3 linked regions of the Homo sapiens genome follow. The protein of the gene in region 1 interacts with the protein of each later gene in a pairwise test. Each region holds a gene or a part of one and is shown in the gene's direction. Other genes may lie near its edges. The genes, in order: PRRC2B, DDX11 and EXOSC7.

What was found.
Region 2: the proteins of PRRC2B (region 1) and DDX11 interact in a two-hybrid assay, tested with the Homo sapiens proteins (one large-scale study listed by BioGRID).
Region 3: the proteins of PRRC2B (region 1) and EXOSC7 interact in a two-hybrid assay, tested with the Homo sapiens proteins (one large-scale study listed by BioGRID).

What each region holds. Positions count from the first base shown.
Region 1 is NC_000009.12:131,480,988-131,484,633, forward strand, and holds part of PRRC2B (protein PRRC2B), read left to right. Parts: intron 1-738; coding exon 739-821; intron 822-1,383; coding exon 1,384-1,575; intron 1,576-1,722; coding exon 1,723-1,920; intron 1,921-2,371; coding exon 2,372-2,458; intron 2,459-3,646.
Region 2 is NC_000012.12:31,101,250-31,104,895, forward strand, and holds the end of DDX11 (ATP-dependent DNA helicase DDX11), read left to right. Parts: intron 1-583; coding exon 584-733; intron 734-993; coding exon 994-1,062; intron 1,063-1,177; coding exon 1,178-1,278; intron 1,279-1,686; coding exon 1,687-1,771; intron 1,772-2,067; coding exon 2,068-2,146; intron 2,147-2,327; coding exon 2,328-2,482; coding exon of another isoform or gene 2,483-2,557; coding exon 2,558-2,587; coding exon of another isoform or gene 2,588-2,784; 3' UTR 2,785-3,550; downstream 3,551-3,646. UniProt on the Homo sapiens protein: DNA-dependent ATPase and ATP-dependent DNA helicase that participates in various functions in genomic stability, including DNA replication, DNA repair and heterochromatin organization as well as in ribosomal RNA synthesis.
Region 3 is NC_000003.12:45,000,173-45,003,818, forward strand, and holds part of EXOSC7 (exosome complex component RRP42), read left to right. Parts: intron 1-1,365; coding exon 1,366-1,436; intron 1,437-3,646. UniProt on the Homo sapiens protein: Non-catalytic component of the RNA exosome complex which has 3'->5' exoribonuclease activity and participates in a multitude of cellular RNA processing and degradation events.

The sequences.
Region 1 (3,646 bases):
GACCCTGTCTCTATTGTTTAAAAAAAAAAGAAGGCCAGGCCTGGTGGCTCACGTCTGTAATCCCACCACTTTGGGAGGCTGAGGCAGGCAGATCACCAGGTCAGGAGATCGAGACCATCCTGGCTAACATGGTGAAACCCCGTCGCTCCTAAAAATACAACAACAACAAAAAATTAGCCGGGCGTGGTGGCGGGCACCTATAGTCCCAGCTATTCGGGAGGCTGAGGCAGGAGAATGGCGTGAACCCGGGAGGCAGAGCTTGGCAGTGAGTGGAGATCGCGCCACTGCACTCCAGCCTGGGCGACAGAGCAAGACTCCGTCTCCAAAAAAAAAAAAAAAAAAAAAGAAAGATATATTTTTTAATGTAAAAAAAGAGAAGCTACCAACTTTTAGAAATAGTATAAGTGAAAAGAAGCATGAGCATAGCGGAAATAACGACAGAGAATCCAGATTGGCAGGAGTGAGGGCTCTGCCCTGCTCACTCTCTCCTGTAATCCATGAGATGTTGAGAAACACGTTGGGTGAGGATGTGGAAAGTTGGGTAAGGCTGTCAGACCAGCTCTTCCACGTCAGAGCCGTTCACTGGGTGTCACGGGTAGGGGGCTGGGGTGGCGGGTGCAGGGGAGGCAGGGGAGTTGGATTTCTGCAAGCTGTGCCTGTGCTTGTTCTTTAAGAGCTCATAAACTCTCTAGACGGGTTGCTCTTTGATGCCCTGACTCTGTCTTCCTCCCCTGGCAGCTCTCCCTGTGCAGGCCCCAGCCAACGACTCCTGGAGGAAAGCTGTCACTGCCTTCAGCAGCACCGAGACTGGCTCTGCGGAGGTGAGTGTGGCCGCTGCCCACATGCTGCCCCTGGGATGAGTGTGTGAGTGTGTGCTCACCATCCACACGGCCAGCTTGCTGTGGCCCACCCAAGCCCCTGCCACAGCAGCTGAGCTTGGAATTAGGTTGTTTCCATGGGGCCAAGCTCATCAGTGGTTTTCCATCTTGATTTCTGGCCTGTGCATGGGGCGTGCATGAGCAGGAGAAAGAGAAAAGGGGTAACAAGGGAGGACCCAACGCTGGGTGGGAAGAGGGATTCAGGGCCTCCTCTGAACTGGTGTCAGCAGCCACGTAGTCTGGTTTGGGTCACAAGTGAGATGGGTTTGGCAGCCTCGGTCTGGGGCCCATAGAAGATCCTGTGGTCACGAGCTCTATCGGGGTTGGTGTGTTTGGCCACACGTAAGTTGTCAGGCATCCTCAGCAGGGCAGGATCAAGATCAGGACCAGACTTGGCAAGGGACAGGCAGCTGGGGTAGAAAAGTCTCTGTGCCACATGCAGTTTTACTCTCTGGATAATCGAGTTGGGAGTTTGAGGCTATAACCCATTTTGTGCTCTGCACAGCAGGGTTTTAAGAGCAGCCAGGGAGATAGTGGCGTTGACTTGAGTGCCGAGTCTCGGGAGTCGTCTGCGACCTCCTCGCAGCGCAGCTCCCCATATGGGACTCTGAAGCCAGAGGAGATGAGCGGGCCCGGCCTGGCGGAACCCAAGGCCGACAGCCACAAGGAGCAGGCTCCAAAGCCATCTGAGCAGAAGGTAACCTGGACGTTCCAGTCACAGTGGCCAGGGCCTGGGTGGAAGGGGCCATCGTCTCATCATCTTCCTCAATTCCTGGGACAGTAGAAGCTAGAGAGTGTGGTCATTCCAGTCTGTGTGTCTCCACCTCTCTGCTTTTTTATCAAGGATTCAGAACAAGGCTCTGGACAGAGCAAGGAGCACAGACCAGGACCCATCGGCAACGAGCGTTCTCTGAAAAACAGAAAGGGCTCGGAGGGGGCCGAGCGGCTGCAAGGGGCTGTCGTCCCGCCTGTTAACGGGGTGGAGATTCACGTGGACTCCGTGCTGCCTGTGCCACCCATTGAATTTGGAGTCAGTCCAAAAGTGAGGCTTTGATTTGTTTTCTTGCTTGCTTTTTTTACTTTTTATTTTGGTACTTGGAGAGGCTGGGGGCTCAGATGGGATTGTCTCCTAGAAGGAATAGAAGGATGGGAGCCAAGCAGTCTTCCAGCGGCTAGAGTGTTGGTGTGGAGTCCTGCACATGGCCAGTGCTCTGTTGAGTTGCTTTAAAGATTGCTTCACTGACACCAGACAGGCCAGTGATCTTCCCTGTTTCTGTCAGGCCACCCAAGGGACAGGGAGAAAGAAGTGAGGCTGGCGTCCTGTCTCCTGTGCCGTGGGGAAAATCTGGCCATCTCGCTCATATGTGGCTCCAGTGAATGCTGCTCAGTGGAGTTTTTGAGTCGGGGAAACTGCATCACGTTAATGTATGCCTCTGGGGAATGTAGGGCCAGGAGGATCTCAGTGGGCTGTGTGGCCTTTTTTATTTTTTCAGGACTCCGATTTCAGCTTGCCACCTGGTTCTGCCTCTGGTCCTACTGGGAGTCCAGTTGTTAAACTTCAGGATGCCTTGGCCAGTAATGTAAGTCCACACTTCCACTTTTGGCTCCACTCACTGCTTGGGGCTGGCAGGCCCTGGGTGAAGGAGACAGCACATGTATTTCAGGCTGACCTGGGCTGGCACGTGACTCAGTTGCTAGCAGCTCCATGTCCTTAAAAGGTGCTTAAATGTTCCTGCCCAGGTTTTGTGACCTTCCAGTGGGGATCATACAGTTCCTAAGGGCTGGTTTATTTGGCTCTCTTTGGTTCCATTGTCTCCTCTGTGCCAGGTGCGAGCCCAGACTCAGGCTGCCTTTTCTGTGGCCAGGGGTAAGGGGCACAGATTGAGTAGGAGAGCCCTCCTCAGGAGGCCCCATCTCACCATCCAAGGGTCCCTGCCGCCTGCAATCTAACTGTTGTGATCCAGAAGACCTGCTGGCGCTCTACCATGGGCTCAGGAGCTGGCAGTTGCATCTGTTGTGGCCACTCGGGGCTGCAGCTGAGGCTGTCGCAGTGACATCTGGTTCACTGCTCTGTCCTCACCACCTGCAGGGGTGGGTGCTAGTGCATATGCTGAATGAACGAGTATCATTTGGGCAGCGTTTCCCAGAGGATTCCAAGGAATGTGAGTGCTGTACAATATTCATAGGTGTTGAATGAAAACAATGTTTTGGAAGTGCTGGGCTCTACGAGGTTCTTTACTCGAGAGTCTGCGGTCTCTGTCACATGCAGATGGACACCGGGGATCTGCAGGAAGCGGGGGCACTGTTGCATTTCCAGCCTCTGTTACCAGAGCCCTCTTTTTCAGTTTGCTGAGGGGCACAGCCTTCCCTGTCTGGCCCAGGGCATCTCCAGGCCAGGTGGCAGGTGCCTTCTGAACCAGATGTTTGTGTGCGGGCTGCCAGTCCATATTTATACTGCCGGGACATGGCTCTCCCTGTCTGGAGGGCACTATGGAGTGTGGATATGGGGGTGGCTCTCTGCAGACTTGTGTGGAGGAAACTGATGGAGGCAGCCATCTCCAGGAGATCAGTCATGGTCCTGGCTGCCATCAGTTTCATCTGGGTGGTCTTGGGTACATGTGGCCAATACTGAAGATGCATTTGGACAATTCATAGACACGGAGCTGTAGGTGCTTTTGGGAAAAGCCATGGATGGGTTTGGGCAAGTCATAGATACATTTGGACGAGCCTTGAGTGTGTTCAGGAGAGCCATGGATGGGTTTGGGCAA
Region 2 (3,646 bases), on another chromosome or scaffold:
ACCCGCTTAGAGCCACACAGAATGAGCGGCGTCGATCTAGATGCTTATGGAGGAAGGTCTGAGCTTCCCCGCCCCTCACGCCTTAGGCTGCGAAATATGTATTCATAAAACCTCCAGGCATCCTCTGAGGACGCCTCACACAGGAGAAAGCTGCTAGTTCCCTTTGGCTCTCTTGCCCTTTGGTTATATCTGCCCCTGCCGGGGGTAGGGATGTGGGGCTTGGGGGCATCTCCTGTGGTGTGCCTGGGGTGTGCAGCCCCTGATTGTCGTTGTGGTGCCCATCAGGACCCTGGACAGAAGAAGGGAGGACTCAGTGCCAGGGCAATAGGGAGGCCCCCTAGGGACGCTAGTGCTGTGACATGTGTCAGAAAGGCGCAGTCAGCAGCAGCGGCTGGGTGTGTTTGGTGGGAGGTGGCACCTACCACCCCGTGGTTCCCACCCAGGGGAGCCAAGTCCTCTTCCTTGGCTGTAGTCCTGCCGAGGGTCTCTCCTCAGTTTTGAGTCTCAAGGTGAAGACGCGGTTTGTGGGTGGCTGAGGGGTTGCTCCATGGGGGCTCCCTCCCTCCCTCCTTTCCTTCCTTAGATGGACGAGGTGGGTCGCATTCTCTGTAACCTGTGCGGTGTGGTTCCTGGAGGGGTGGTCTGTTTCTTCCCCTCCTACGAGTACCTGCGCCAGGTCCATGCCCACTGGGAGAAGGGTGGCCTGCTGGGCCGTCTGGCTGCCAGGAAGAAGGTGAGTGGCCTGTCGGCAGCCTTCCCACTTGTGAGGACAGTGCCACTGAGTCCTCCTGGGAGCTCTCGTGCTCATCGGGTCAGGACAGGCTTCTGGCTCCTCATCCCCACCGCTCCCAGTCCCTGACTACAGAGGATTTCCCCCAAAGTCCCTGGCTGTGAGGTTCTCCAGTCCCCTGGCCAGAAAACACAAGGCCACGAGCAGACTCGAGACCTGGCACCCTGAACCTGTCTCTGGGAAATGTCCTCTGTCTTTCTCAGATATTCCAGGAACCTAAGAGCGCACACCAGGTGGAGCAGGTGCTGCTGGCATATTCCAGGTGCATCCAGGTGCGGGCGTCATGCTGGGCTTGGGTCTGAGATCGTGTGGGGGTGGCAGCTGGAAACGTTGTGGGTGTCATCCAAGTTTTGGCTCAGCAACTCAGCGTCTGGGTTTCTCCTACAGGCCTGTGGCCAGGAGAGAGGCCAGGTGACAGGGGCCCTGCTCCTCTCTGTGGTTGGAGGAAAGATGAGTGAAGGGATCAACTTCTCTGACAACCTAGGCCGGTAAGTAGTGGTTCTGCTCGTCTCCTGGGCCGTGATACATGGCCGGCCCTCACTCCCAGCAGCTGGGCCCCTGCCTGCTCTCTGCTGCCATTAGAGCCCACAGCTGGGCTGCGACTGCTCAGACCAGCCAGCTGGAGGGAGGGGCTCAGCAGCTCTGGGTTTGGTCCTGGGAGAGCAGTTGGATTTTAGGCTACCCATTGCTGTATCAGGACCCAGTCAATTGGCCTAGACGGGATCTCTCAGCCGAACAAGCCCTCTCCAGGTGGTAGGTACAGAGTGGAGAGAGGCTGAGTTTTGATCACAGTCGGAGAGGCTGAGGGAAGGGGTAGAACGGAGCAGCTGGTGACGTGGGTGATGACCCGGGAGGTCCTGACGTCCACCTGCTGGGCTCTTGTCTCCCCCGCCCAGGTGTGTGGTGATGGTGGGCATGCCCTTCCCCAACATCAGGTCTGCAGAGCTGCAGGAGAAGATGGCCTACTTGGATCAAACCCTCGTGAGTGACCCCAGTGTCACAGAGGGTGACAGGAGAGTAGGCAGTGGGTGGGAGTGGCATCACCCCCAGGGCTGATACAGCCAGGCCTTCCCCGCTGCGCTGGCGTCTCCTGCCCCCTCCGGAAGCTTGGATGCCCCTCCACACCCTCTTGATCTTCCCTGTGATGTCACCTGGACCCCTGCTGCTGGCATTGGCCACGAAGCCTCCTGGTCTGGCTCCAAAGCCTGGCAGGGTCTTTTCCCAGGGGGAGCTGCAGGCAGGGAACAGTCCTGATGGGTCTTCCCCTTCACTCCCAGCCCAGAGCCCCCGGCCAGGCACCCCCAGGGAAGGCTCTGGTGGAGAACCTGTGCATGAAGGCCGTCAACCAGTCCATAGGTGAGCCTGGCTGCCTCCAGCTGGGTGGACAGATGGGGGCTGGAGAAAGGGAGAACAGGAAAGAGGGGTTGCCTGCCCTGTTTCCTATATAAGTCTGAGGAAGGGGAGGGGGTCGCCGTGGGAATGTGCTGTAGGGGGGAGGCAGGTGTTGCTCGGAGCCCCAGCCTCTGTTCCTATGCAGGCAGGGCCATCAGGCACCAGAAGGATTTTGCCAGCGTAGTGCTCCTGGACCAGCGATATGCCCGGCCCCCTGTCCTGGCCAAGCTGCCGGCCTGGATCCGAGCCCGTGTGGAGGTCAAAGCTACCTTTGGCCCCGCCATTGCTGCTGTGCAGAAGGTCAGTCCTACCTTTTTCTTTCTGAGAGCCTCCCCACCCCGAGATCACATTTCTCACTGCCTTCTGTCTGCCCAGTTTCACCGGGAGAAGTCGGCCTCTTCCTGATGGGCAACCACACCACTGCCTGGCGCCGTGCCCTTCCTTTGTCCTGCCCGCTGGAGACAGTGTTTGTCGTGGGCGTGGTCTGCGGGGATCCTGTTACAAAGGTGAAACCCAGGAGGAGAGTGTGGAGTCCAGAGTGCTGCCAGGACCCAGGCACAGGCGTTAGCTCCCGTAGGAGAAAATGGGGGAATCCTGAATGAACAGTGGGTCCTGGCTGTCCTTGGGGCGTTCCAGGGCAGCTCCCCTCCTGGAATAGAATCTTTCTTTCCATCCTGCATGGCTGAGAGCCAGGCTTCCTTCCTGGTCTCCGCAGGAGGCTGTGGCAGCTGTGGCATCCACTGTGGCATCTCCGTCCTGCCCACCTTCTTAAGAGGCGAGATGGAGCAGGCCCATCTGCCTCTGCCCTTTCTAGCCAAGGTTATAGCTGCCCTGGACTGCTCACTCTCTGGTCTCAATTTAAAATGATCCATGGCCACAGGGCTCCTGCCCAGGGGCTTGTCACCTTCCCCTCCTCCTTCCTGAGTCACTCCTTCAGTAGAAGGCCCTGCTCCCTATCCTGTCCCACAGCCCTGCCTGGATTTGTATCCTTGGCTTCGTGCCAGTTCCTCCAAGTCTATGGCACCTCCCTCCCTCTCAACCACTTGAGCAAACTCCAAGACACCTTCTACCCCAACACCAGCAATTATGCCAAGGGCCGTTAGGCTCTCAACATGACTATAGAGACCCCGTGTCATCACGGAGACCTTTGTTCCTGTGGGAAAATATCCCTCCCACCTGCAACAGCTGCCCCTGCTGACTGCGCCTGTCTTCTCCCTCTGACCCCAGAGAAAGGGGCTGTGGTCAGCTGGGATCTTCTGCCACCATCAGGGACAAACGGGGGCAGGAGGAAAGTCACTGATGCCCAGATGTTTGCATCCTGCACAGCTATAGGTCCTTAAATAAAAGTGTGCTGTTGGTTTCTGCTGAGTTTTTTATTGATATGTGCTGCTGTTTTCTCTGGAAGCCTCTTTAGGGAATCGAGGAGCGCACTGGTGCAGGGGCTGGGTGGAGCCATCCTCCGAT
Region 3 (3,646 bases), on another chromosome or scaffold:
TGTTAGAACTTTGCTGCACTAACAACACACAGCTGACCTTTGGTGGGGTGATTGGTCACAAGCCTGTCTTTTGATGGGTTCTTTCACAAATAATCACTAACCTTCTTCCTCATAGCACCCCTTCTGTTGGGCTCTGGGGATAAAAGGATGAACAAAACTACAGAGTCCCAGCCTTTAGGAGTTCACAGTTCAACTGCAGAGGAGATAGACTCTAAACAAAAACAGAACTACATGACTTTTCTTTCTATGTGTGACTTCTCACCTTTCTTATTTGGGGCAGCCCAGTCGGCTTTATTCCATAACCTCAGGCCAAGGCCTCTCTAAAATGAGGACAGAAGGATATGCCACCTTCCAGTTAAATGTGCTCTAATTTTCCCTGCTAGATGAGCATACGTAAGTGCACTCAACACTTTCGCTCATGGGCAGAAGCTTGTCTGAGAGACTTTAGTCTTCATTATAAGTAATGTAAAACATGTAGTATTTCATGTCTGAGCATCAGATATACATTGATCATTACATACGAGAAGTAATTACACTAGTAAATGTGAACCTAGTAGCAGCCGCAACATCAGTAGCCACCGTTTTCTCCTTGTTTGGAGGCCAGGCATATGTTAGCAAAGATTAGAGTAACACTTGGAGTACAATTGGGAGCTATCTGGGGCAAAATAAAGGTGATCAGTCCCACCTTCAGGGCAGCCCCAACTGCCTGAAGTGCCTGTGAGAGGAGCCCACCCACAAGCCATGGCCTCTGAGTGTTGGTACCACAGCCCTGCCAACTGTGACCTTGTGTGCATGGGCCACGTAAGCACAGCTATGACAAGGCAGTGCCTGTAATTAGGGTGAAGGACTGTGTCAGTGAGTTGCAGTCACTGCATGGCTAGCCAGGAGAGAAGCCACATGTTATCTTTATTTTATAAACACACAGTCAGCATTTCTTAGAAATCAGTGTCCTTGACCACAGAATAGATTTAGGGAAAGAAAAAAAAAAATCGGTGTCCTGGCCGGGCGTGGTGGCTCATGCCTATACCCCAGCACTTTGGGAGGCTGAGGTAGGCGGATCACTTTTGGTCAGGAGTTCAAGACCAGCCTGGCCAACATGGTGAAACCCTAAAATACAAAAATTAGCTGGGGGTGGTGGCGCACACGTGTAATCCCAGCTATTCGGGAGGCTGAGGTGGGAGAATTACTTGAACCTGGGAGGCAGAGGTTGCAGTTAGCCAAGATTGCACCACTGCACTCCAGCCTGAGTGACAGAGCGAGACTCTGTCTCAAAAAAAAAAAAGCAGTGTCCTTTAACTGGGGTAATACCTAAAGTAATAAGTGATGCTTGGTTTTTTTTCCTTTTTCAATTCCTGTCTCCCTTAGCTTCTGGAATGTGGTGGAAATTTGTTTGATGCCATTTCCATTGCTGTAAAGGCTGCTCTCTTCAATACAAGGTAAGTCTTCCTAGAAACAGCTCTGCGAACCTGTGGAGAACCAGAGCAGACACTTGTAATGGAACACTGAGGAAATTTCTATTGTAGCTCATATGTGAAGATAACAGGGGGTTTTAACATTGAAAATGGTGACATCTAACGTTAAACTCCAGAAAAGATAGATTTCGTGAATTAAAACTACATATATACGTATATTCTGTATTTATTTTTTGTATTGTTATTTTTATAAATAGACACCTACCATTTAGAAAAATATTAGAAAACTACAGAGAAGCCAAGAAGAGTAGACACCACCTACAGGCCAACTATCCAAATACTATTACTGGGTGAACTCTATGGGGGCAAGGATTTTGCCTGTTTTGTACTTGCCTATATTCCTAGCACCATGAACAGTACCTGACACATAGTAAGTGCTTGCATATTGCTTGATTGTACACATGTGTGTTCTAAAAGCAGGGTAACAGGCTTCCCTTTGGTTTAAGAAGAGGAAATGGCTATTCCACATGGTTCAGCTTTCCAAACAGGTTGTGTAGAAGGGACAAGTTGCTATGCTTTTTTGGAGTTGACATTTATTCTGACTGATTGACCTTTCCCCCTTTTATGCTCCAAGTACTTTGAGGAAAATTTGCAGCATTTATGAGTAAATACGTGGGATAGGGTGTTCATCCTATGAGAGAGCCTACATTAAGGTAACAGAGGATCCTATTAAAAAACGAGGATTAGAAACTTCTAGGGATATAACCTAAGGACATAATTGAATAAATGAGCAAAGATGTTTATTCTAGGATGTTCATCACATCCTAGAATAAACATTACACTGCTTTGTAATGGTAAGAAACTGGAAACAACCTGAGTTTCACAATGGAGGGGATTGAAGTCCACACAGCAGCCTATTTAAAGGCATGTTAATATGGAAAATAGTTCACTAAATGCAGTCCCCTCATCCTGGTTTTTGTTTGTTGGTTTGTTGTATTTTACTTTGGTAGTTCTTATATGTAATGTGTCTGGAAATATGTACCCCCAAGTAATCACTGTAATTATTTTTCAGTGCTCATATTTTGGCCAACATAACATTTACCTGTTTTTTAGAGCTTTTCTATGATGAGTTTAGACTCCCTGTGTAATTTAGAGCAGACAAAAATTGCAGGCTGGAATATTTGCTGAGAATGAAAGCTGTAGAGTCCCCCACCCCTAGCTGTGCCACTAGGCTCCTTGTTGAGACTATTTGAAATGTGAGCCTGGCACTCTTGGCCACCGTGGGAGCTTGCGTGCCAGATCCCACAGCAGTAGCTGGTGCTCGGGCCCTGTTGGGGAAGGAAAGGAAGCTGTCATCTGATTTATCTTGAGCCTCAGAAATGACTCCCCATCTGCCAGCTGGTTCCTATAGGCACCCAGGCAAAAAGAGAGATTGGGAACCAGACAAGGCTGTTTAGCTGTGGGGGAGTTGCTGGCCAAACTGTATACCAGAAAGGTTAACCCAGCTGCTCAGGTAGGGGAGGACACCTGTCATGGGCACAGCCATAGTCTCATCCTCAGACCAAGAACAGCCCTGCAGGCAGCAAGGAATGGGGACTCTAAGGCATCAAGTCCCCCTGGTATGTGGAGAGACTATTGGCATATTCAGGGTCCTTTAGAAGGGTAAAGGCCACCTGAGGGTATTCTTTAGCCCTTCTGCCCAGGCTTGTTGTAGCCAAAGGGTTGGGAAATTGGGAGATACTGTGCGTGCGTGCGTGCGTGCGTGCGTGTGTGTGTGTATGTGTGTGTGTAAATGGTTGACAACTTGTTCAAATAGGATATTACTTAGTAGAACTTCCTCTGATGGGAAGGCTCCAAATGGGGAAGACCCTTACAGAACTCCTTGGCCCTTGTCAACATTCTCTGGCTGAAGCTCCCCTGATCTGATCTAGATGTTGCCTTGTGTATGGATGGCCAGCAGGGCTCAATCATGGGGGGTTTTGTTAGAGGAACTGGGAAAAGTACTAATGCTGTTTCCATTACAGTAGCTGGATGGACCACCTCTTCCTTCCTGGCTCCTCCAACCCAGCCTGGAGTGAATTGACTTTATAGGTTAAATGTGTTTTTCAGTACCCAGCTGAAGAAACAGAATGTTGCCAGCACCCCAGAAGCATCCCACACCTTCTGTACCCCCATGCAATTACACTCACTGATGATAACCAGCATCTTAAAAGAATAGATTACTTTTGTACTTG